Linked DNA regions of Homo sapiens. The protein of the gene in region 7 purifies or fractionates together with the protein of the main gene of each other region. This does not show direct contact. Each region holds a gene or a part of one and is shown on either strand. Other genes may lie near its edges.

Region 1 (3,500 bases), on a different chromosome or scaffold from region 7:
TTGTATGTTTAAAATTATTTGTGTGCACATGTGCACGCGCGTGTGTGTATGTGTGTGTTTAACGAACACATTTGAGTTTTGGAATATTCAGCAAAATGATAGTTGCTGGCTGGGTGCAGTGGCTCACACTTGTAAACTTAGCACTTTGGGAGGCTGAAGCAGGAGGATCACTTGAAGCCAGGAGTTTGAGACCAGCCTGGGCTACAAAACGAGACCTTGTCTCTACAAAAAATAAAAAAAATTAGCCAGGCATGGTGGCGCGTGCCTCTAGTCGCAGCTACTTCGGAGGCTGAGGTAGGAGGATGGCTCGAACCTAGGAATTCAAGGTGGCTGTGAGCTAGGATCATGCCACAGCACTCCAGCCTGGGTAACAGAGCAAGACCCTGTATCTAAAAACAATAAAATTAATTAAAGTAATTTTAAAATGATAGATGCTGAAGAGAATATGTTATGTTTAGTCTTATCTCACATTTTCATTCATTTCTATTTAAAAGTAAAGCTTTTTAGGGGAACTTTAATAAATCGGTGTAACTGACAAAAAATTTACAAATACAATATGCTGTATATCAACATGCCTTTACTGAGAAAACAGAGAAAGCAGGCTCCATTATGTTAGCACCTTTTGGTTCTTGATCTTTTTTTCCCCTTATTAAAACAGGTGACTGTAGTCACATGATACTTACTTTAAGGCTTGTGTGTAGATATAGCTATTATATTTGTGGACAGTCTCAAATGCTTTCATCTCATGTGTTTTCCATGTATAGGCAGAAGGAGAAGACAGCCTGAAGAAGATGCAGCTGATGGAGCTTGCGATTCTGAATGGCACCTACAGAGATGCCAACATTAAATCACGTAAGAATGAGCTCTGAGGCCCAGGGTTACTGCTGTCTGCGTTGTTTTGTCTACAGACTTTTTTCCTTTTGGCAACACAATAATAGTTCATACAAAGTGAACAGTTGAAATAACTGTTCTGTCACTTGATATGGGGCTGACAGTCCTATTTTTAATGCTTTCATGAATTGAGGACACTCTTGATTTTATTTTATGTCAGCATGTTGAAGTTTTAGGTTGATAAACTTACATTATTTTAACAAAATCACAATCTCTAAATTCAAGTGTTTAAGAAATTTTCTGTTTGGTTAACTACAGATGTAGGGCTTGCAGCTTATCTTGTTAAATTTATGCAAAAGACAACATATTGAAAGCTTATTTTGAAAAAGTGAATTTGAAGTGTATCTGACTGAAATGACCCTCTGTTGAGTTCTGTCCTTTCACTTTGCTTGCATGTTTTCCCTCTAGTATTTTTCCCTGTTGATTTCATATGTGAGTTCACAGAGATCAGTGGGTGATAACTCTTTTTCCGTCCTATTTTTGTTTTTATGCGTATCTATGCATGTTTTTATAAGCCGTAAGAGGATAGCTTTTTTATGTTTAAAATGAAATAATGTGAAATTTATATTTTGAAACAATTTAAGATTCATACATGTCATTTATATGAACATACCATGTTTAAATTACTGATTATTTAAAACACATAGAATTTTTAAGTTCTAGCCAGATTTAGAAGATGTAGGCAACCTCTAGTGGGTTTAGAAGTAGTTACTTTACAAATTGTTGACATTAATTTACTCATGAAAATGTGAGTATATCATTAATAGGAATTTAGAAGTAGGGCTTTTTAAGATTTTCTGTGACGTTGGTTCCTAAAGATGCAGGAAATGTACATATATACCTAGTGGTTACTTGACTAAATGCAATAAAAATTATTCTTTCTTTACTTTGAAACTAAAGCTGTACTTTAGAAATATACCAAAACTGAGTTTCTGTGGACTCCGGTTACAAATTATTTTTTAACATCTGTTAATGCAAGTGTTTCATTGTGCTTCTGCATGTACTTTAGTCTTATGAAATCTTAGATATATCAAATGTATGAACTAAATATAACCTATTTAATGGTGTCATTCATTTTTTTACAATGGCTTTTTAATTTTTGCACATTCTTAATCACATTGGGAAAGGGAAAGCTGTTTGCATTTGATTGGTGTGCTTTTGCATTTTTGTGTGATCAGCGCATGTACTAATGATTTCCTTTTATTTTTCTTCTTTCCTGCTTTTCCTTTCTTTTTCCTACTCCCTTCTCATTTTTCCGTATTTTATACTGCTGTCTCTATACTTCTTTCTAAATTTCTTTGCTTACTGTAGCAGCCCTTGCCTTTTCTCTTGCAGCAACAGCCCAGGCTGCTCCAAGGATCATTACTGGGCCTGCGCCGGTTCTCCCACCAGCTGCCCTGCGTACTCCTACGCCAGCTGGCCCTACCATAATGCCTTTGATCAGACAAATACAGACCGCTGTCATGCCAAACGGAACTCCTCACCCAACTGCTGCAATAGTTCCTCCAGGGCCCGAAGCTGGTTTAATCTATACACCCTATGAGTACCCCTACACATTGGCACCAGCTACATCAATCCTTGAGTATCCTATTGAACCTAGTGGTGTATTAGGTAAGTTCTTCTCCCCATGGGGTTAACAACATTCTCTTTATAAATATTTTTGCTCCCTCAGATTTTGAAATGATTTTATCAGTTTTAGAGAGGCAAGACAAGTTTGCATTAGGGAAGACCGAAAACTAAATTTTGTTTTATTTCAGCCTCTCATAAGGGTTCCCCTTTGAAATAATTGCACCTTAAATTTATTCAGATCCACTTTGGTAACTGAGGTTCAGTTTGGTTGGGTAAATCTGTTGTGTACATTTCAACAAATACTTTTACATTTGACATTACTGAGGTCATTCTGAGTTTTAGGTCCCACCCCATTGGCCCGTCACCTCCATCAGCTCCACTTCTCAAACTTTATTTGAGATTTATTTTATCTCACAGGTTTGTGTAATTGTTGGAAAATTTTTAAACTTCTAAGTGAAAGTAGTCTGAGCGCTTTATAAAATTCATATTATTGTGTGTGTTTTGTAATATTTGCGATCACTTAAAATATCAGATAAATACAGTCATGCATCGCTTAACAACGGGGATACAGTCTAAGAATTGCCTTGTCTGGCAGTTTCATCATTTGGTGTACATCATAGAGTGTACTTACACAGACATAGATGATATCGTTTACTACACACCTAGGCTGTGTGGTATAGCCATTATAATCTTATGGGACCACATAGTATAAGTGGTCCGTTGTTGACCAAAATGTTGTTATGCAGGCATGACTGTAGTTGTATTCTTAAGATTTTTCAGTTCTTGTGTTTTGGAGTCCTAGTCATATTAAACATGAGAGATACTCTTAATTTCAGTAGTACAGTATGGAATAGTTAAATAAATAGCAAATCACTGAATTCAGAATCTCACTTAAGGCAGAAATTAAAATCATAATATAAACGCTTGGTTTTACATGAACAAAAAGTGGTGTGCTCGAAAAAGACATTACTGATGCCTTTTTTTTATAGAGTGGATTGAAATGCCAGTCATGCCTGATATTTCAGCCCATTGACTTGCTG
Region 2 (4,080 bases), on a different chromosome or scaffold from region 7:
CAGAAGTGCTATGAAATGGTAAAGTATACAACACTGCCTGCAAGTACTATCGGAATTCAGGATAGGGAAGCTTAGAAAAACCAACCCGGAAGGAATTAGTCCATAATAATGCTTAATAAATGTTAACTAGCTACATTATTATTATCATTATCATTATCATCTTCATCCTCATTATTGCATTGGTCTCTGAAAGATGAGAAGCTGTAAACATGAAGGCTAAATCGCTGTGGAGATGCTTTCAAGCATAAAAACATAAGAGTAGGAGGCAAGAACGAACAAGGGAAATTTGTGAGACACAAAAGAAAGTAGTCTGATGAGAGCAGAGGGCAGAGAAGAAATGAGACTTGCTAGGTAGAATGGTCAAATAATGGGAACCTTTGAAATAAAATAAAGTGCCTACTATGGGGGGGCAGTTCCTTCCCTGTACGTGGTGCCTATCTCAAGGCAAAAGTAGAGAAGAGATTTACGACGAGGATTTTATTAGGTTGGTGCAAAAGTAATTGCAGAGAAAAAAGAAGTGTTTTACGGAGGTCATTTTGACAAGCTGTATTTGATTTTTTAAAAAAGAGATTAAGATAATACATTTTATGTTATGTGCTTTTTACCTAATTTTTTAAAAATGAAGAAGACAGATGAGGAGGAGGAGAAAGAGTTCAGATGACTGCTAGGAGATGAAATCCTATACCAGAGAGAAGAAAGAAGAGTGACCCGTTCTGCCCTAGGTCTTTTGGTTATTTGAAGTAGCTGCTTCTCCACCCCACCCCCAGAAACAGTAACAAGCACTCACCACCTTCTTCAGAGAGTGTGTGAGAGAATAAAGGTCAGGAGAGAAAACATGTTTAGTGCATCTGAAAGGAAACCCGCGAGTTAACCACTTCCTTCTGTCCCCACCCTTCCATCTTTCTCTAAATATTGGTGAGGTTATGGAGCTTGCGTTGGCGCGCGGGAAGCCGAGAAGAACGGGACTCAAAGCCCGGCTGGGAAGTCAGGTATCTAGTTGGCCGGCGATAAGGGTTTCACCTTCAGGACTGGAGCTCCACAAGATTCAACCGTTATATCAACCTCCCCGGCCCAGGTCTTACCATCACAGCGTCACAAACTCCAGGTCGCCTAGGCGCTGCGCAGGAAGCGCTTGCCAGCCCCGGACTTCTGCGCGCGCTGCATGCCCATTGGATGTGCTCATTCCCACCCCAGCCAATCCCGAAACTCGCTCGGACGCTGACAGAAGACTGCGCCGCTGCTTTGGGATTGGTAGCTGAGTTTTGTGTCGCGCCTTTTCTGACGATGCGAACAACATGGCGGCGGAAAGTGGTAGCGATTTTCAGCAGAGACGTAGAAGGCGCCGGGACCCGGAGGAACCGGAAAAAACAGAACTCAGCGAAAGAGAGCTGGCAGTAGCAGTGGCGGTGTCCCAGGAGAACGATGAGGAGAACGAAGAGCGCTGGGTTGGACCTTTACCTGTGGAGGCAACACTGGCCAAGAAGAGGAAAGGTAGCTGCAGACATAGTACCGGGACGAATTGGAGTGCTGCGTCCGCTGAGTAGGAGGGTTCAAGCCAGATCCGAAGAGGGATGATGTGTGGAGTTTTGTGCCCTCAGAACAGAGGGCCGTCCTCTCACTTCTGGCTACTCCATACTTGCATGTCTTAACGAAATAGTGATTTAAGCGTAGTACAACGTCTTTTTGATAATATCTAACACTTTTGATCATTGATTTGTTATGACAGATGCTAAAACTAACATTTTCCTATTCTTATGTGTTTGGCTCCTCTCATTTACTCCCCACAGCAGCCACATGAAGTTGGAATTTCGAACTCTTATTTAGGTATGCAAAAGGGTACCAGTTCTCTTTAAGGCTTTAGTTCAGGAGTGGTGTTAATGTATTAATGTGTTGGGGCGCGAGAGGAAGGCGGTGCTTATTTCGAATCATGGTAGGTAAAGATAATTTCAACTCTGACACTTCCACTAATAAATTTTCGCATCTAGGGAAAATGACGTAAGCTTCCTAGATCACAGATTTGTTTTCATCCAAAACCCGAAGTCTGTGGTTTTGAAATCACGCTCTTGATACGATGGGCTGAGTCTTTTTGTCACTAACGAGGAATAATCACAAATTATTATCAAATAAAAGGGGTGGGAAAAGGGGTAGATTAAGTTTTCTTGTCTTTGTTGTTTTGTTATCTTGTTTTTCTGTGAAATGTTTTCCTTAAGTATTTAAGACATTTTAAATGTGGTCTAAGCTCAAATCGTACTTTAGCACCTTCCCTTAAAAAACTTCAATGATTTGTCATTATTTTCTCTCTCTTTTTTTTTTTTTTTTTTTTTTTTGAGACGGAGTCTCGCTCTGTCGCCCAGGCTGGAGCGCATGCAGTGGCGCTATCTCGGCTCACCGCAACCTCCGTCTCCGGGGTTCAAGCGATTCTCCTGCCTCAGCCTCCCGAGTAGCTGGGGCTACAGGCGCACGCCCAGCTAATTTTTGTATTTTTAGTAGGGACGGGGTTTCACCATGTTGGCCAGGATGGTCTTGATTTCTTGACCTCGTAATCTGCCTGCCTCGGCCTCTCAAAAGTGCTGGGATTACAGGCATGAGCCACGGCGCCCAGCTCATTATTTTCATTAAAGCCCAAACTCCCTCACATGGCATATAAAGCCCTTTATGATGTGATCTCTCCTTACCTTCTTAGTGCATCTTCCATTACCTTCCTCTCCCAACCCCTTACTTTGTACTCCACCCATTCTAAAATCACTCGAGAATCGGTCTTGTACTTTTTTTTCCTCTGGATTCCTACCCAGATATGGTGTTTCTACCGGGAATAATTTCCCTCAACTCTTCCACTGAACTGACTTTTGGTCAACCTTTAGCACTTAGCTATCATCTTCTCTGGGAAGCCTGTGACTTCTCCAGTCTGGACTGGATTTCTGAAGCACTTTGATCATAACTCTGAGGTAGTTATATATCAATACTGAATTTACAGGTAGCCTTCAAATTTTATGTATCCAAATTTTGAAGAAGCTGTTTTTTTGAACGTTGTATATTGACACCCTTACAGTGCATTATCATTTTTACTTCCTGGTCCTCTTATTAAATGTTTCCATAGTAACCATTTTATTTATGGCACTTGCCGCAGTTTCTAATTATATATTTATTCATGTGATTGATGAATGTTTCTCTCCACTGCTAAGACTGTAAACAAGTAAGAACCAGAATCACGCCTTTTTTGTTTCATTGCTTGGTGTACAGTGCTTTGCCTAAGTATTTAATGACTGCATATTAAAGCTTTTATGCTGGTCTTTAGCTATTTTGTTGCATATGAATATTTTTGCAAGTTCTTTTTTAATTAAACGAGTAAGGAGAAATGTAAAAATCCAGAAATATCGAAATGCTGATATTAGTGTTACCGGACAAGTGTCTTATAAACTTAATATAACGGAGACAGATATAAATTAGTAGGTGTGAAAATCTTTCCTCTTAATCAGTTATTTATTGTTTTAAGACAGCCAATAGTTGGCCGGGTGTGGTGGCTGATGCCTGTAATCCTGGCACTTTGGGAGGCTGAGGCGGGCAGATCATCAGGTCAGGAGTTCTAGACCAGCCTGACCAACATGGTGAAACCCCGCCAGTCTCTACTAAAAATACAAAAAAATTAGCCGGGCGTGGTGGCGCACACCTATAATCTCAGCTATTCAGGAGGCTGAGGCAGGAGAATCACTTGAACCCAGGAGGCAGAGGTTGCAGTGAGCTGAGATTGTGCCACTGTACTTCAGCATGGGCAACAGAGCAAGACTCCGTCTCAAAAAAAAAAAAAAAAAAAGCCAATAGTTTATTCAGTTTGAAGAAAAAAATTGAAACTAAAAAACATACATAGAATGTTACAAAAATATTTAAAATTTTGTCTAAATGGACAAGTATTTAACAATTTCAGCTTTCTAGAAATGGAGTCACCCCCTTTAACATGTTCTTTGGACATTGGACTGTTGTATATATTTTCAGAAAGACATGATTATATAGCACTATATCTCTTCAGGACAGGAACTGTGTTTTACTCTTCTTTATGCCCATGTGACCTAGAACGTATTGTGT
Region 3 (3,500 bases), on a different chromosome or scaffold from region 7:
TAGACACCATGAAATACAGTGTCCCAAGCTGGGTCCTCCAGGAAGCAGAATTTGAGATGGAATTAGGAGTGCAAAAAATTCACTGTGAAAGGTAAAGAGAGGAAGCCGGACTGGGCAGACTAGCCATCAGACTGTAATAAAAACCCGACAGTCTCTGCAAGCCTGAGATTGACTGTTAGAGGTGTCCCACGTTGGGCATGAATGGCCTTGCTCAGCTACTGATGGAGGCTGCCCTGAGAATAGCATGACCTTGGCTGAAAGCTGAGATGAACCCTGAGGGGCTAACAGCTGGAGGCTGTCAGCTAACTGTATTTCCCACTTCATAGCCAATCGCAGGGAGATCTGAGTAGCACATCTTCTTGTCTGCCACATACGGTAAATAATTTTTAGTCAATTAGTTTTAATTTCACCAAAATTGTGCCAGACTAGAATATCATAAAGAATTATTTACTGAACTGAAGCAGACAGTATCAGTGCTCATTGGCTGGTCCAATGTCTCCCCTACTCCTCCTCACCAGGGAACTGCCTCAATCAATGACCAATAGAAGTTGGGTAGGCCAGGCATGGTGGCCTTTTTGAAGCCACCCAGGTGGGCAGATTGCTTGAATCTTTTGGAGCACTCTGGGAAATGCCTCTGAGAAAGGGGAAAAAATGCCAGCTAAACTGGGGCTTACCATCAATTGATAACAGGTATACTACCTTATTTCAATCGGCCCAGGTGGGCAGATTGCTTGAAATCAGGAGTTTGAGACCAGCCTAGGCAATATGGTGAAACCCCATCTCTACAGAAAAAAATACGGAAATTAGCTGGACACGATGGTGTGGGTGTAGTGCTGTGAGCCTGTAGCCCTGGCTACTCAGGAGGCTGAGGTGGGAGGATGGCTTGAGCATAGGAGGCAGAAGTTGCAGTGAGCCAAGACTGCATCACTACACTGCAGCCTGAGCAACACAGTGAGACCCTGTCTCAAAAGAAAAAGAAGTTGGATAAATACTCCAGCTCCTGTGGTTACTACCCCTCCAGTGGTATAACCCTGAGGCACAAGATCTACACTGTTTCCCAGTAGAGTTAAGTTCCATCTGCCTAGTTACACGTGCTTTGTTCATTTGTCTTACTTTCCCAGCCTGCCCTCCCCACCCCAAGGCCCTAGTATTTCCTAGGATCACCTCCCAAATAAACTACTTACATTCACATCTTTGTCTCAGGGTCTACTCTTAAGAAAACATAAACTTAGATGCTGACAAAGGCAAAAAAGTTATAAAACCTCCGCCTATTTTGGCTCATAATTAAGTCCCTTCCAATACCTGTGCCCTAAGCATTGGTCTTTCTAAGCTCGCCACTTTTATATATATTTTTAAAAATTCACAAGCCCCCATATACATGGTTTTCCTACCATCATCACTGCATCATAGTAACTACCACTTATGGAGTACTTAATATATGCCAGGCACAAGACTATGCACTTTATGGGTGACCTACCACTGAAAACTCTTAGATGTCCGTGGTCTAATTATATGTGTAGTTGAGAAGAAGAATCATGAAGAGCACTACATGAAGTTCATCTCTCTTTTGCACATAGGAAACACAGTCTCCTGGTATGAAGTGGGATTACAACCTTTCAAACTGTGCTTTTTTTTTTTTTTTTTTTTTTTTTTTTTTTTAATCTTCTCTTCTTTTCCAGAGACTGGTGCTCTTGGAGAAAACTATAGTTGGCAAATTCCCATTAACCACAATGACTTCAAAATTTTAAAAAATAATGAGCGTCAGCTGTGTGAAGTCCTCCAGAATAAGTTTGGCTGTATCTCTACCCTGGTCTCTCCAGTTCAGGAAGGCAACAGCAAATCTCTGCAAGTGTTCAGAAAAATGCTGACTCCTAGGATAGAGTTATCAGTCTGGAAAGATGACCTCACCACACATGCTGTTGATGCTGTGGTGAATGCAGCCAATGAAGATCTTCTGCATGGGGGAGGCCTGGCCCTGGCCCTGGTAAAAGCTGGTGGATTTGAAATCCAAGAAGAGAGCAAACAGTTTGTTGCCAGATATGGTAAAGTGTCAGCTGGTGAGATAGCTGTCACGGGAGCAGGGAGGCTTCCCTGCAAACAGATCATCCATGCTGTTGGGCCTCGGTGGATGGAATGGGATAAACAGGGATGTACTGGAAAGCTGCAGAGGGCCATTGTAAGTATTCTGAATTATGTCATCTATAAAAATACTCACATTAAGACAGTAGCAATTCCAGCCTTGAGCTCTGGGATTTTTCAGTTCCCTCTGAATTTGTGTACAAAGACTATTGTAGAGACTATCCGGGTTAGTTTGCAAGGGAAGCCAATGATGAGTAATTTGAAAGAAATTCACCTGGTGAGCAATGAGGACCCTACTGTTGCTGCCTTTAAAGCTGCTTCAGAATTCATCCTAGGGAAGAGTGAGCTGGGACAAGAAACCACCCCTTCTTTCAATGCAATGGTCGTGAACAACCTGACCCTCCAGATTGTCCAGGGCCACATTGAATGGCAGACGGTAAGTCTTTGTTTCTATTCTCTTGCACTGGCACAGGTGATCCCTGAAAATTAAATAATTTTTGAGTGTACACTATGCAACACTATGTAGAAACCATCTTGTTTGGATTAAGAATATGAGCCAGATGCAGTGGTACATGCCTGTAACCCAGCTACTTGAGAGCCTGAGGTTGGAGGACCATTTGAGCCCAGGAGTTGGAGGCCAGCCTAGGCAACATACCCAGACCCCATCTCTTTAAAAAATTTTAATTTAAGTTTTTTTTTAAAATAGGCTGGTCATGGTGGCTCATGCCTATAATCCCAGCACTTTGGGAGGTTGAGACAGGAGGATCACTTGAGCCCAGGTGTTCAAGACCAGCCTGAGGAACATAGCAAGACCCTGTCTCAAAAAAAAAAAAAAATTATCAGGGCATGGTGATGCACATCTGTAGTCCCAACTACTTTGGGAGACTAAGGCAGGAGGCGCACTTGAGCCCATGAGTTCAAGGCTGCAGTGATTCCTGCCAGGGCAACAGAGCAAGACTTTGACTTTGACTCTAAAAATAATAATAATAATAATATAGCATTCAGTGCCAGGCCATCTGGATTTGAATACCAGCTTTGCTATTTATTAACTGGGTAACCCAAAGCAAGTTACTTTATCTTTTGTTCTTCAGTTTCCTCATTTGTACATTGAGGATAATAATAGCATTTATATCTTAGAGCTGGGATCAATATACATAAAATGCTTAGAGTAGTGCTTGGCACATAATAAGTATTTATCATTATTATGGCTGTTGCTATTATCTTAGGCACCCGGAGGAATTAGAACAATCTTTGATCCCAAGGAACCTAAAATCAATTATATTCTTTATTATAAAAATATTCTTTATTTGAAAAATCTCTCTGGGGAGAAAAACCATCTCAACATTTCTGAAGCAACCTATCAATAGTAAACAAAAATAATACTTAAGAGTATGTAAATTTGTGACAAGAGTGGAGTATAG
Region 4 (3,500 bases), on a different chromosome or scaffold from region 7:
ATTAACTATTTACTGAGAGGTCAAAGAGGCGCAGGCGCTTTGAGCAGTTTTCCCAGGAACCCACACAAAGTCAATTAAGGTCATTTAATTGCAAATCGGATTTGGGGTGACACGGAAATGCTGATATAGAATCAGTTAGCTGTATCCGGTGTCCCCAGACTGGGTCGCACAAATTAAGGGATGGCCTATCTCGCTTTTGACCTTGGTTGAGCCCCCTACTTCACTATGCTGATTAGACTTCGCCCAAGAGGGCAAATTTGCCTCTCCCACACCCGCCCTGGGTTAGACGAGTCCCCTCCCTTCCCCCCAACCCCGCTCCGCCCGTCGCATGGGGGCGGGGAGCGCTGGACGCCCTTAGCGGACCTTGCTGCATCAAACCTGCATCATGCCCTTGAAGCTGTAACCTCGGTCACGTTCTTGCGGCGACTGGGTCGCCCACTGCTCGGTTCCTTTCTCTTACCTCCTACAATTTCAGGTAGGTATGACAGGTGATTTTTTAAATGTAGTATTTTAGGAGAAGGGCTAAAATCGATGCCTTTGCAATGAAAAAAATCCCAACTACAGGTGCTCTCGTAATTAAGCGGCCGAGCAGGTGTAAAAACGTGCTCCAGCCGCGTGGCTCCGGGGTGGGTTTTGACTTCCAGCCGTGGGGCCGGGTCTGAGGACAGGCACAGGTTTTTCTGGGGAAAAGGGATTGAGCTTGGCGAAGGGGCGGGCCAAGGCAAGGCAGCGATGGGACGCCCCCTCGGTGAAGAGTTGGCCATTTCGGGTCTTGAGTTGGGGGGCGATAGAAGGATGCGGCTAGCGGCAAGCGTTTGCATAGTCGAGTGCAGGATTTCCTACTTTGCGTTTGAAGCAGAGTACAGCACCCCGCACAGGTACTCTGGGCTTATTTAAACGTCAGGTTCTCTCTAGAGAGGCAGGGAGGGGCAGCAGGGGGCTAAGCCTTTATTTTCTGTCCAGGGACAGGACCCCTTGGCTGCGAAGTAGGGGGAAAAAGAGAATTTTTAAAAGAGACACACATATGTGTGTATACTTATATATATTTATAAATACATTTATGAACACATAAAGTAACCCCCACGTTAGCTGCTCTGACTCCCCGTTAGCGCCCCGGGCCTCGGGATTTGCAAACTTGCACCTGGAATCAGCCTCCTCTGGGCGCTCAACGCTCTCCACCGAGTCCAGAGAAACCTTGTCGGGGAAGCCTGGTGAGACTCGGAAGTCCGGAGGGACGGAGCTGAGCTGCTGAAGCCCGGCATCTCCCTGCCGGCACGGACCCGAAGGGCGGTCGGGCAGGGCACGCGCCGGCGGCGGCCGCGGCGCCGCGAACTCGCCGCCGGCCCCGCCTCCTGGCGCTCTTCCAAGCAAGCCCCTCCTTCCCGCCCCGCTACAAACGGCGGGACCGCGGCGCCTGGGCGTCACTGAGGCAGTAGCCGGCCGGGTGAGGAGGGCGGTTGCCGGCGCGGCGCGGCGCGGCGCGGGTGGGGCGGGGGTTCCGCCGGCTTCCAGTCCCCTTTCCCGCCGCCGCCGCCGCCACCGCCTCTCCGCGGAGCTCGCCCCGAGCGACTCCTCCGCGGCAGTGCTGACGGCCAGCGGCACGAGCCGTAGTAGCTGCAGCTTCGAGTCACAGCAGGCAAGTGCTGGGGGCGTGGGGGCGGGGACGGCGTCCGCGCCTTGCCCCTGGTCCATTTTGGACGCCGAGGCTAAGGTCTGTGCGCGCCCCCGCTGCGTCTAGCAGGGTAGGGGTGGTGCGCCCTAGTCCGAACTCTGGGCGGGAACACTGGTGGGGGCGGCGGAGGTTGTGCCCGCGAAGTTCCTAGAGCTCAGCCCGTTGCGGCGGGAGTAGAGAGAATTGGGCGCCTCGGGAGGTGGCACCGCCCCTCCCGTGGGCACAAGCAGGTTGGGGGCGGCGGGAGCCGAGCGGGGACAGTCGCGCCTGGCAGCGTGCACGGGCGTGGACGTGCCCGGGTGCGGCCGCGTGTAGCGCAAGAAGGAAACTGTTGAGACGCAGGTGAGTGTATTGGAGGGAAAGTGGGGGAGGGGGCTTTTCTAGAAAAAGGGCAGGATTCCTGTGTTGCACTGGCAACCCCGCCTTGCGGGAGGATGTGTGCACTGGCTTCTCCCGCGGAACACGCCGGGGTGGTGTCTGGTGTGTGCCCACTTGCTACGGCGCCTTCGCGCGCGCGGTCCTTGGAGCTCTCGGGGCGTTTGGAGACTTAACACCGGCCGCGTTGTGTGCGGAGGTGGTGTAGGGCCGCGGGCGCCCAGGGCAGGAGCAATGATGATCCCCTCGTGCGCGTTAGGTGAGGCCCGTCGCAGCCGCGCGAGGTCGCAGCTCGCGGTCACATCTCGGGTTTGCGCGCGAGGCGTGCGCTGCGCGGGAAGCGCGGGCGCTCTGCCGGGCGAGGCCGGCTCTGGGATTTCAGTTCGCTTGCCGTGGTTGCGGCAGCTGCTCCTCCAGCTTGGCTGGTAGGGCCTGCCAGCGGCGGCCGGGGTGCACGGACTAGTGTGCGTGCACTGGTGAGACTGGGGGAGCCAGCGTCGGTTCACTGGCAGGTGCTCCTCCAGTGGCCGTGACAATGCTTAGCCAGCAGTCTTTCTCACGGCATTTCCTTAAAAGCCTCCTTGTTATCCTTCAGGGCCAGAGCGTAAAACCATGCCTCTAGATGCGAGCTATGAGCATGCAGTTGTAGCTGCCCAGATGGTCATTTAGAATTGTGTGCATTTTTAAAGACCATCTTTATGACAAAGATTTTCAAGTCCTATCGTCTCTACATTTTCTGAAAACATGGGAAAAGGATTTGCTACGAGTTGTCCACTCTCCTTTATTCCCTCCCTCAAAGAACGGTTCTTAGAAGTGCCAAAATGTAATACCTTCGGCAAGGACAAAAGCGCTTTTAAAACTTAATTTTCTAGTGGCCCTATTCCTAATAATTCTTCATAAAAATTTAGCTCAGCCTCAAAACTTACGGCGAATCAGTCCATTTAAAACCATTCGAATATCAATTGCTGTGTAATGTCCCCATTCCCTCAAGTAAAATCTGTTTGTTTGAAATATTGTTTTGTTGCCCTTGAAGAGTTTTCTCAAGAATCGTTTCGCCAGAGTCGCTTGAATTTCCCATTTCTTGTGGAAGCTGACCTGGAGTTTCCATTTTGGTGAGCGGGTGGAAAAGCTGTCCTGCATCTACCTTGTCTTAGTAACCTTTGGGTATATATAAATGGTGACTGTATTGCTGAGTGGACCCGAATGTTACTGCATTTGTGGTAGGGGCCTTCTTTATAGGAGGTTTGTAGGGATGCTAAGGTAACAACACTTAAGGTTGTGGGGAGGATATACTTACGGGAAGTTCGCTTGCAAACTATGGGGAGAGAAAGAAGAGGAAGAAAACATCTGGAAGATAAAGGCCAGAATGGGGTAGGAAAAATTAGAATATGAAGAAACATGTTACATTAAATTTTCTGTGATTCCTCCTTTGTAATTTTCCTTTTTGAGAGAG
Region 5 (3,500 bases), on a different chromosome or scaffold from region 7:
GTGGTAAATGATTGCTAAGCACAAATGTGGAGTTTCTGCCTTTAATACGCAGCTAGTCCTCTGCACTCAATTCTCTGGCTTTCCAAACAGTCAGTCAAAAACAATAGATTGGATTCCAGTTAACCTAATTCTTCAGTCTGCTTGGTGTCAGTTTGAGGTTGACGATAGTGAGACTATAGGTAAGCTTATCACCAAAACATTGTACTATGGGGAGTATAGCTGAGAAGCCATCATTCTGCGCTCTGAGATCTAGTCACTTGTCAATTAACAAGGGACCTCAAATGCTGAATTCAATGAATTCAAGTGCAAATTTAAGAATTCTTTGGTGACTGAATCTCCTGTAATTCAAGTGGGTTCATATTTCCAACTTTACTTCAGACATCTGTGTATTAGGACAACCATCTACTTATTTGGTTTAATTTTAGGAAAGAATTTAAGGTTTCCTGCTGTACTAAGGCAGACTATTAGCTTGAAAGTTATTTTTCAGAATCCTGTAAAAAAAAATCTAGCATTTTGAGCCTAACGCAGTATTTTGAATAATCTGAGACTTAAAGTGTCTTCCCTCTAGCTTTTTTCCATTGCTCTTTGCTCTCTTTACTTATGCAAACAGGCTTCCTTATCCTCTGAGGCTCATTGAGCCAACACACCAGTTGGAACAGAAGCCATGAAAAAGAAATACAACACAGGTCTAAATTCATGATACATGCCCTGATTTATTGCCATCAAACTGGAAAGAGGCCAAGTGACAGAAAATAGTGTTTACTGAGGAGCTTTAAGCTGCTCTTTTTAGGAAGAGGGGACTGGAAATGGTTCTCATTTTAAACACTGTCTGAAATACAGCCCAACTAGAAAGTGAATGGGATGGAGATGTCAAAACATAGGGAAAGAGTCCCTGAAATGGGTTCAGATGGTCAGTCTTCTCTATTTTCTCTGTTGCAAACTTGAGGAGCAGATTAAATGTAAGGGAGAGTGTTTTCACCAACTGGTAAAGTCGTAGCCTGCATCTAGACATTCACAACAACCAGGGGACCCCTTTATTCCTGAGTCCCTCTCCTCTCCTCTGACTAGGGTGATCTATATAACCGGAGGAGTGTTGGCCAGCATTTATGCCCCCACCATCTGCAGGACAGTAATAGAGTCTGAGGAACTTACATTCTGCCTGGGGAGATGTGACAGTTATATAGTAAATGAAGGAAATGCTTAAATTCCAAGTGGGCGAGGCAGACAAAAAGAACAGTAATTAAAAGGAGGAAGTGATCCCTGCATGCTAGAAAAGACTTTAAGGAGGATAATGCATTGAAAGAAAGAATGAGATTTAGAGAAGGGCGGGGGCAGGTTTCTGAGGTAGAAGGAGTGACTTGGGCAAAGACAGAGGAAGGATTGTGGGTGAATTATTCAGAGGTGACATACCTGTATGTGCTTGGGGGACACATATTTATTTATTAAGAATAAATCAATCTGTAATAAGTTCATGTTATGATCTTATAAAGATATACAGATATATTTACTTTTGCTCAGATCTCACAACGTGATGAGGTTGGCAGGAAAGTTGATTCATTATAACAATGACAATGCTGAGCTTCAGAAGATTAAGTGGATTTATTTAGGCTACAAGCTAGCCAGGAGCTGAACTAGGACCGAAATGACAGCCCCCTGACTTTGACTGCAATTATTCTTTCTCTATGCCTCTCTGCCCAAGATTCCTTTCATTTCCTAATTTAGACTGGGTCTGGCTCTAGGGGGTAAAGAGGTCAGGTAAGGGAGGTATAGGAGGACATTAGCAAAAGAGAGCCCGGGGCCAGAACGTGGAGGGCCGGAAGTTAGAGAATGAGTCCTGCAAAACGAATGTCACCCCACTGGTGGTTAAAGGCATTCTTGGGCAAAGGGTCTGCAGTGAAAATAAACATCAGAGGCACTTATTTATTTAAATGAGATTCCCACTGGGTATCCATGGCCTCATGCCACTGTGTATAGAGCTATGTGGGAGAACCTACCACACAGGGGAGGATAAGGTTCTGTGTGATTACATACTGTCTGATATCCTTAATATACACAAGGGGGAGAAGACTAGAGGAGGGTTGAGGACTCTTAAAATCCTGTCATACCGTGATCTGTCCACAGATTGTAAGGGTCTATGGCAAAGTATGGTATGAATGAAATGGAATCTATGTATGAATTTGAAGTTACAGAAACAGATAATTTTCTGTCATCTAACATCTAAGCAGCTTTGCCCTAGAAACTCCTCTAAATATATTCTAAATATGGCTTATCCTTAATTTAGAATAGGGAGTCCAAAACCATGAACAGTAAGTCCCTTTCTCTTACCTTTGTTTTTACTGTTTTGTGTTTTTACTTAAACATTCATTTTATTTATTTCAGAATAGTGTGGTTTTGAGCACAAAACAGTCAGAAAAAAAGACCTAAAATATACCAACTTAAAATAAAACTTTGGTATCTGCGCTCCCATCAAGATCTGAAGAAATATTTTCAGATGCCATAAAGCTAATTAAAAACAAACCAAGCAACTAAAAATACCATCACCACATCTTTTTATAGCTGCCTTTAATCTTGTTTTAAGGCTAATGTGAATCAATGAATAAATTTGGAGAAATTTTGTTTTTCCCCTTAAAAAATTATGTTCCTAAAACAAGCATTTCCTACCCAGAATGTCCGTATGAGCAGGCATAGAAACACATGAAAAATAAACTAAAGCATGTCTATTTAAAATTAATTATGATCTGAAAAACAAAACAAAACAAAACAAAAACTTCATCCCAGAAAACCTTTGTTAACGTTCCATTCAAAGGCTATTGAACACGTTTAATTTCCTTGAGGGAGAGTATTTTGTCATGCGGGGAGAATTCTTAGAAGGGAAAGCCTGCAGGTAGCAATACAGACATCTCTGACAGAGAAAAATAAACAGCAGGATCAAGCTGAGACCAGATTTATTAACCATTTTTGATAAAATATTTGGAAGAGGTACACAGCCTGGTGATTTGCCCTCTGAAAAATGCCAAGGTAATAGTCATAAATATCGGAAATAGTTTATAAGTTTAGGCGGATAAATAGAAAGTTGGTTGATACATTTGAATGTAGTCAAATGCAAGAAAATTGGCTGATAAATTTGTATTTAGTCAAATGCAAAAAGTTGTTTACAGAAAAATGATTTATAGAGGTTTGCTTCTGAGCTTAGTGATGATGCAACAAAGGGCAAATAGACAGCGTTCATTGCAGACATCAGCCTGGTGATCTATTTGGGATCAAGGATCTCAACAAAGACCTGGTCATCATCACAATAAAATTTCACATCCTCCCACCTCCAAGGTAAGCAGCATTATGCCCACTAGCTTGTGGGATGTGGAACAGAGTTCTAGCTTCAGCTCAAGGATTGAGTAAAATTGGTAAAATTGGAGAAGGCTCAGGGAAGGGCAGCTAAATTAATCAAGAGAGTAGAGAAGCTTTTGTATTAGGTTAGATAAAAATAGTGAGACGTTCTCAGA
Region 6 (3,500 bases), on a different chromosome or scaffold from region 7:
GCACTCTAGTTAGGTAAGATGTGAACATTAGAGGAAATTGGGTAAATGGTATAATGAGAACTCTGTGTACTATTTTTGCAACATTTCTGTAAGCCTAAAATTATTTCAAAATAAAATTGCTTCACAACAAGAAAAAAAAGGGCCAGCCATGGTGGCACACACCTGTAATCCCAGGACTTTGGGAGGCTGAGGCAGGAGGATCACTTGAGCCCAGGAGTTCGAGACCAGCCTGGGCAACAAAGTGAGACCCCATCTCTACAAAAAAGTAGCTGGGCATGGCAGTGCATGCCTATGGTCCCAGCTACTCAGGAGGCTGAGGTAGGAGGATCACTTGAGCCCAGAAGGTTGAGGCTGCAGTGAGTCATGATTGTGCCACTGGACTCCCTGCCTGGGTGAGTGAGACCCTGTCAAAGAAAGGAGAGAAGGCCAGAGCAGGAGCGAGAGTGAGGGAGAAAGAGAGAAAGAGAAAAAGAGAGGAAGAAACAGAGGGAGGGAGAGGGAAAGAGAGACAGAGAAGCATTATGCTAAGTGAAAGAAGCCAGATACAAAAGGCTACATAGTTTTTGAGACCATTTATAAGACATTTTAAAAAGGCAAAACTGTTGGTACAGAAATCACACCAGTGGTTTCCAGGGACAGGGGTCGGGGGAGTAAGGGGGAGCAGAGAAATTTTTAGAGCAACGTAAAATTACATTATCTTTATTTTTGTGATTTTTTTCAACACTCATAGAACTGTATAATAAAAAGCGTGAATTTTACAGTGCGTAAGGAGTAATATGATAAACCTCACCTACAAATAAGCAAGCAAGTCAACACGTTTTCAATGTATCCTGTCTCTTCTGCAATCAAAAAGACTGTAGAAGAAGATTGACACTCAAAAAGAGAAGAGGTTAGAGAAACATGGTGTAGTGTCTCCAGAACAACCTCAGGGGACAAGGCTGTCTGGCTGCCTAAAGTTACTTCTGCAGGGAAGGCAGGCAGACTGGCTGCTAGAGGGAAGTGAACAGACTCATGGGCCCCAGCAGCCACTCTGGTGAGCAGCTCCCAGACTCAGTGACAATGGTGACATCCAACCAACATGAATATCACTCCAGTGCTTGATTTAAAGAAAGCTTGAGGAAAATGGATTGCCATGATCTTCAACTAGCATGGGCATGATAAACTTTTGACAAACTTCAATTTACCTGGAAAACTCAGTAAGGAACAAATGAGGTGTTAATATAGTTTGTGGGTTTTTTGTTAAAATCTGGAAAAACTTAAACATATACAAAAATAAACAGTGTAGTATGGGGAACCCTTATATTCTTATCACCCAGCTTCAATAATTAGGGGCATGAAGTTTTAAAAATATCGTTAGAGATGACAATTATTAAACTTGCATGTCATGAAAATTGTGAAGATCAAAACTCTGAATACTGCCTAACAGTAACTAAAAGCTTCTTATATGCTGCATGAAGTTACTTAGGCTATCATCTTGAGCTTAATACATACCTTTAGTTATTTCTCCCAAAATGAAGATGGTTGTCTCCACGGCTGCTTTCTAATATATTTGAATCTGGAGACATCAATATAATACAGACTTCTAATTTGATCCAGAAAATTATTTTCTTCTTCTGTAGGTTTTTATATGTTAGAAAACATTTCCATTTACTGTAAAAGAATTCAAAAAAACTACTGAATAAACTGTCATTTTTTTTTATCAGGCATGAAGGTAGGATTGTAAAAGTCATTAAGAATTTAAAAGAAATTAAGAACAATGTCACCTGGAATTATTCCCAAGATCGTAAATGTTCATAACATAAAACTATTTTCTTAGTCTTTATTTGCGACTACAAAGTATTTTAAGACTAAAAGTCTAAATACAATTTAGTATTTGCTACTAAATAGTCTTTTAAGATACTACTACAAAGTCTTTATTGAAAACATCCTTTGTGCCAACATGTATCTGCTTTTCCAGGGTGTCAGGGCAGGCAGTGGTTCTAGTTTCCACAAGGTTACAACCCTGTTCAAATTTAGAAGCAATGTCAGAAGGGTGACAAGGCACCATTGTGACAGTTAGAGGAAAGAGGACTCAGGGTGAAAGTTACCCTGGGTGAAGACTCCTGCCTTGATTTTATCTTCCAGGTGGGAAAAGAGGCCTTGAGGGAGGAAATAAACTCATTGATCAGTCATTGGGAGCTTTTTGGGTGCTAGGCAGGTTCTTATAAATTGACATTAATCCAAGTAATGTCATTTAACGATGCCTTTTCATGAAATCTGAAACTCACCTAACAGATTTTTTTTAAAAGCCTGTATGTTCTCTGTGAAAAAGGGGGGCACCCTACCAATTCTGAAAGATAGAAGTGAAAGATTATATCAGAAATTTGAGGGAAAAAAATTTACAGAAAACTCAGAACCTGATGGCTTCACTGATGACCTGAATTCTACCAAACATTTAAAGCAGAACTAATACCAATTATTTTCTTTTTTTTTTTTTTTTTTTTTGAGATGGAGTCTCGCTCTGTCCCCCCAGCTGCAGTGCAGTGGCGCCGTCTCCACTTACTGCAAGCTCCACCTCCCGGGTTCATGCCATTCTGCCTCAGCCTCCCGAGTAGCTGGGACTACAAGCAACCGACACCACGCCCGGCTAATTTTTTGTATTTTTAGTAGAGACGGGGTTTCACCGTGTTAGCCAGGATGGTCTCGATCTCCTGACCTCGTGATCCGCCTGCCTCGGCCTCCCAATACCAATTATTTTCAAACTCTTCTAAAAAACTAAAGAGGAGGAAATACTTCTAAACTCATTTTAGGAGGCCAGTATTACCCTGATACCAAAGCCAGAGAAGGACGTTACAAGAAGAAAAACTACAGACCAATATCCCTGATGAACATAGATGCAAAAATTCTTAACAAAATACTAACAAACTGAATTCACTGACACGTTAAAAGGATCATTCATCATGATTGAGATTTATCCCTGGAATGCAAAGATGGCTCAACATACACAAATCAATAAATGAGATATACCATATTAACAAAATGGAGGACAAAAACTGTATGATCACCTCAAAAGATGCAGTAAAACATGTGACAAAATTCAACATCTTTTCATAATAAAAACTCTCAATAAGTATAGAAGTACTGTGACACAGAAAGACCAAATATGACAAACTCACAGCTAAATCATACTCAACGGTAAAAAGTTGAATGCTTTTCCTCTAAGATCAGGAACAAGACAATGATGCTCACTCTCACATTGTCTATTCAGTGTAGTACTAGATGTCCTAGCCAGAGCAATTATGCAAGGAAAGGAAGTAAGTCATCCAAATAGGAAGGGAAGAATTTTTCTATATATGTTTTCTATATATAAGATCTATATATAATATAGATATGTATATAAAATATAGATATATAATATCTATGTATATAAGATATACAGAGAGATCTATAGGGATATATAAATATATATATAATATAGAGAGACATATAAGATATATGAGATTTCTATATATAAGATGTTA
Region 7 (3,500 bases):
GCAAACAACAAACTAAGAGAAAATATTTGCCATTTATATAACAAAACGAGGGCCAACCTCCCTAATAGATAAAAGGCTCTTGATATTTAAGAAAAATACCAGAAAGTTGATAGAAAAATGGATAAAAAGACCAACAGTCCACAGAAAAAGAAGCAAAAATGGCACTTACATGTTAGAAATAATATTCAACCTCACTCCTAAGAGAGAGCAAACTGAAGTCCACTGACCCATCTTTACCCCTGAGAAATGCAAAAGCCCAAGAGCCTGACAACTCACTCTGTGGCATCTCATGCGTCCTAGTGGGTGTGCATAATGATTCAAGCCCATGGAAAGGAATTTGGTTTACTTCCTACGACTCTGACCTAACAGTCGACCTCCAAAATTTGTTTTTTTTAATTAAAAAAAAAAAGAGACAGGGTCTCGCTATGTTGCCCAGGTTGGTCTCAAACTCCTGGGCTCAAGCGATCCTTCCATCTTGGCCTCCCAAAGTGCTGGGATTATAGGTGTGCACCACCGCACCTGGCCATACCTCCAAAATTTGAAACAGCACATACATCAAATGGTTCATCACGACATTATACTTTTTAATAGCAAAAGACTGAAAACAACACAAACATCCATGAAAAGGGGACATATTAAGTAAACTATGGTACATACATATTACAGAGAACCAGGAAAGAAGAAACGGATTGAGGAAGTTAATGAATTGAAACAAAGTGATTATCATGATCTATTTTTAAGTGAAAACAAAAAAGGGTATAGAACAGTATAGATAGCATGTTCCCTTTTGTGCAAGAAGAAAATACTTTTATATGTATGTATGCAAATGCTTATTTTTGCAAAGAGAAACATAAAAAAGAGAAACCGGAAACTAATGTTACCCACAGTGGGAACAGGGTAGAGATAACAGGGAGGAAGTTACAGTCTACAGAGGATACCATTTTATATAGGTTTGACTTTTAATCACGTGAAGGTTTTACACATAGTCAAAAACAATAATAATAATAATTATTATTTTTGAGACGGGTCTCACTCTGTCACCCAGGCTGGAGTGCAGTGGTGTGATCTTGGCTCACTACGGCCTTGACCTCCCTGGGCTCAGGTGTCTCTCCCACCTCAGTCTCCTGAGTAGCTGGGACTACAGGCGCACAGGCTGGTCTCGAACTCCTGGGCTCAAGCAATCTACCCGCCTCGGCCTCTTGAACTGTTGGGATTACAGGTGTGAGTCACTGCACCCAGCGCAAAAATAAATTTTAATTTAAAAAGGAAAAAGTAAGGCACATTCCCAGGAAATTACTTTGCTAGGTCTGACTCACAAGGCAGTTTCGTGGACTGATAATACCTTTCTCCTCTATCTTGTACCAAACTCATTTAAAAACGACCTTTGCATGCTTCACAAAACAAAAGAACCAAAAGAGACATTGTTGGTTCTCCATAAAATAGACACAAGCCAGACCTCTCAGGCGAACAGAAGGTGCAGCCAGCTACCAGTAACACTGCCTAAAGTCCCAGCACTGGCTCTGGCAAGCCCAAACTGTATGGGCACTGTGGTCCCTCTCCACCATGCAGGCCACCTTCCCCCAATATGTGGCTGTGTGGTTTGGAGAACACTGACCCCTTCCTCTCAGTTCCAATCCCATCCCACCTCCCCAAGCCTAAAATAACACCAGAGGTTGAGATAGGGTCTGATCAGTACAAAGCACAAGAATTTCCCCTCATCTGCTATAGGAGGTTTCTCTCCTCCCTTCTAGGGGCTCACAGGCCACAGGCTAACCTGGTGGCTCCTGGCAGCCATCTTGGGACTGAAAGAAACTCACCCTGACGAAGCTCGCCCATTAGTGACTGCAATATCTGTTTTTAGAGTTTTGGTATTCCGTGATATTCAAATACTAAAATACATGAGTTTTTATTGGTGTAATTCCATCATTATTTCATTATTTCAACATTTAAAAAATTCAAGTCTATGACTCAATGATTCCACAGAAAAGACAAACGGATGGGTTGGCTTCAAGTCTAGACTCGCCTTCAGAGTCTGTCTTCTCCAGAGAATCATCGCAGATCACAACAGGCAGCCTTCTAATTATGCATCACGAAGCTTCTACCCACAGGGTAATTCCCACTCTGGTCCAACTAGTAGAAGACAAACGATAACAGAGTGTGGGAGCACTTCGTTGTACAAGCCAACGGTGCCCGGGTGCTGTCTGAGGCAGGTTTTCTGTCACCACTGCAGAGCACACCCCAGCTGATTACATCCTAAGTACCAAGCCCCCCACTGCAACCTACCAGGTTTGCATGGTCGTCACATCCTGGGGAGACACGTATTTGGGTCTGCGGCAAACCTTTTTAGTTGTGCCATAGACCAGGTTTTTCTGAACGAAGGCTGAAAAAAAACATAACCAGTGAAAAAATATACATATACATATACATACACACAGGATGGCAATGTTTTATAAACACAAATTAGATAGATTTGAAAGCTTATCCAAATGTGTAAAACCCAGAATCAGTCTGTTAAAAATAGGGCCATTTTACACATTTCAAATATTCATAAAGAAAATAGGTATCCTTAGGAGACTGGGTTTAATGAATAGAGGAATGATTAGTAATTGACATATCAATTACACATGAGTGCTTTTAAATTGTTCCTTCCAATCTTGTTTAAACCATTATTTTGCTTGGCAATTTTTCCCAGCTTGGATATAAAAAAGCCTCAGCCCAGCCTGAGATCAAACTACCATGTCTTGAGTTAGTGGGATTCAGAGTTAATGTAAGTTTTATGACTTTGTTTTAGTTAAACTATGGCAGTATTCATCAACCTTTCTAAACCAATAATATCTTTAATAAACAAATTTCTTGCTTCCCCACCCTCAAGAATCCCATACTCATCCTGAGGATTTGGGGTTGGGGGAACTGGCCCCTCAAGTTGAAAAATGACAAATACCTAGCAGTGTTTGTTCTGTCCTTGCCTGCCAGGAAAACCCTCTCAAGTCTTACATTTTTTTTAAGAGATGGGGTCTTTTGCTTTGTTGCTCAAGTGGACCTTGAACTCACCAGCTCAAGTAATCCTCCCACCTCAGCCTCCCAAGTAGCTGGGACTACAGGTTTGTGACACCATGCCCAACTAATTTTGTTTTCATTTACAAAACATTTTAATATTAAAAATTATAGGTGTCCAGAATTAGCCTTATTGCAGTTGAGCATAAACTGGATGGTTATCCAAGTGTGTGTCTCTTAGGTTGCAGCTGAGATGGTCACTATTCCTGGAGGTCCATCCACATTCTCATTCAGAGCCCATGATCCAGATGCAGCAACCATGACCCCTTCTGTTACCCACTACTCAGCCGCCCATCAAGACCATTCTCACTGGCATATTTAAATGGGTGTTACTGGCCTACTGGCCATCTGTGATGAATCTTAAATGGCTTTCACTGGTGAAATTAAAAGTGAGCTAAGATACGTGGACTGGCTAAATGTGTGTCAGACACATTCCCTACCCTTCT

Evidence for each region.
Region 1: the proteins of PARP12 (region 7) and QKI purify together in Homo sapiens (co-immunoprecipitation; one large-scale study listed by IntAct). This does not show direct contact.
Region 2: the proteins of PARP12 (region 7) and PPWD1 purify together in Homo sapiens (co-immunoprecipitation; one large-scale study listed by IntAct). This does not show direct contact.
Region 3: the proteins of PARP12 (region 7) and PARP9 purify together in Homo sapiens (co-immunoprecipitation; one large-scale study listed by IntAct). This does not show direct contact.
Region 4: the proteins of PARP12 (region 7) and ELAVL2 purify together in Homo sapiens (co-immunoprecipitation; one large-scale study listed by IntAct). This does not show direct contact.
Region 5: the proteins of PARP12 (region 7) and CCDC80 purify together in Homo sapiens (co-immunoprecipitation; one large-scale study listed by IntAct). This does not show direct contact.
Region 6: the proteins of PARP12 (region 7) and SIRT5 purify together in Homo sapiens (affinity purification with mass spectrometry; one large-scale study listed by BioGRID and IntAct). This does not show direct contact.

The regions. Positions count from the first base shown.
Region 1 is NC_000006.12:163,561,218-163,564,717, forward strand, and holds part of QKI (KH domain-containing RNA-binding protein QKI), read left to right. Parts: intron 1-764; coding exon 765-852; intron 853-2,202; coding exon 2,203-2,502; coding exon of another isoform or gene 2,503-2,528; exon of another isoform or gene 2,529-3,449; coding exon of another isoform or gene 3,450-3,493; exon of another isoform or gene 3,494-3,500. UniProt on the Homo sapiens protein: RNA reader protein, which recognizes and binds specific RNAs, thereby regulating RNA metabolic processes, such as pre-mRNA splicing, circular RNA (circRNA) formation, mRNA export, mRNA stability and/or translation.
Region 2 is NC_000005.10:65,562,016-65,566,095, forward strand, and holds the start of PPWD1 (peptidylprolyl isomerase domain and WD repeat-containing protein 1), read left to right. Parts: upstream 1-1,280; 5' UTR 1,281-1,295; coding exon 1,296-1,491; intron 1,492-1,787; coding exon of another isoform or gene 1,788-1,824; intron 1,825-4,080. UniProt on the Homo sapiens protein: PPIase that catalyzes the cis-trans isomerization of proline imidic peptide bonds in oligopeptides and may therefore assist protein folding. May be involved in pre-mRNA splicing.
Region 3 is NC_000003.12:122,554,301-122,557,800, reverse strand, and holds part of PARP9 (protein mono-ADP-ribosyltransferase PARP9), read left to right. Parts: intron 1-1,679; coding exon 1,680-2,515; intron 2,516-3,500.
Region 4 is NC_000009.12:23,819,741-23,823,240, reverse strand, and holds part of ELAVL2 (ELAV-like protein 2), read left to right. Parts: intron 1-108; exon of another isoform or gene 109-475; intron 476-685; exon of another isoform or gene 686-878; intron 879-1,420; exon of another isoform or gene 1,421-1,636; intron 1,637-1,931; exon of another isoform or gene 1,932-2,014; intron 2,015-2,084; exon of another isoform or gene 2,085-2,306; intron 2,307-3,500.
Region 5 is NC_000003.12:112,631,144-112,634,643, reverse strand, and holds part of CCDC80 (coiled-coil domain-containing protein 80 precursor), read left to right. Parts: intron 1-3,500. UniProt on the Homo sapiens protein: Promotes cell adhesion and matrix assembly.
Region 6 is NC_000006.12:13,577,601-13,581,100, reverse strand, and holds part of SIRT5 (NAD-dependent protein deacylase sirtuin-5, mitochondrial), read right to left. Parts: intron 2,330-3,500; exon of another isoform or gene 2,268-2,329; intron 1,651-2,267; 5' UTR 1,492-1,650; intron 1-1,491. UniProt on the Homo sapiens protein: NAD-dependent lysine demalonylase, desuccinylase and deglutarylase that specifically removes malonyl, succinyl and glutaryl groups on target proteins.
Region 7 is NC_000007.14:140,031,952-140,035,451, forward strand, and holds part of PARP12 (protein mono-ADP-ribosyltransferase PARP12), read right to left. Parts: intron 2,381-3,500; coding exon 2,284-2,380; intron 2,131-2,283; coding exon of another isoform or gene 2,088-2,130; exon of another isoform or gene 564-2,087; intron 1-563.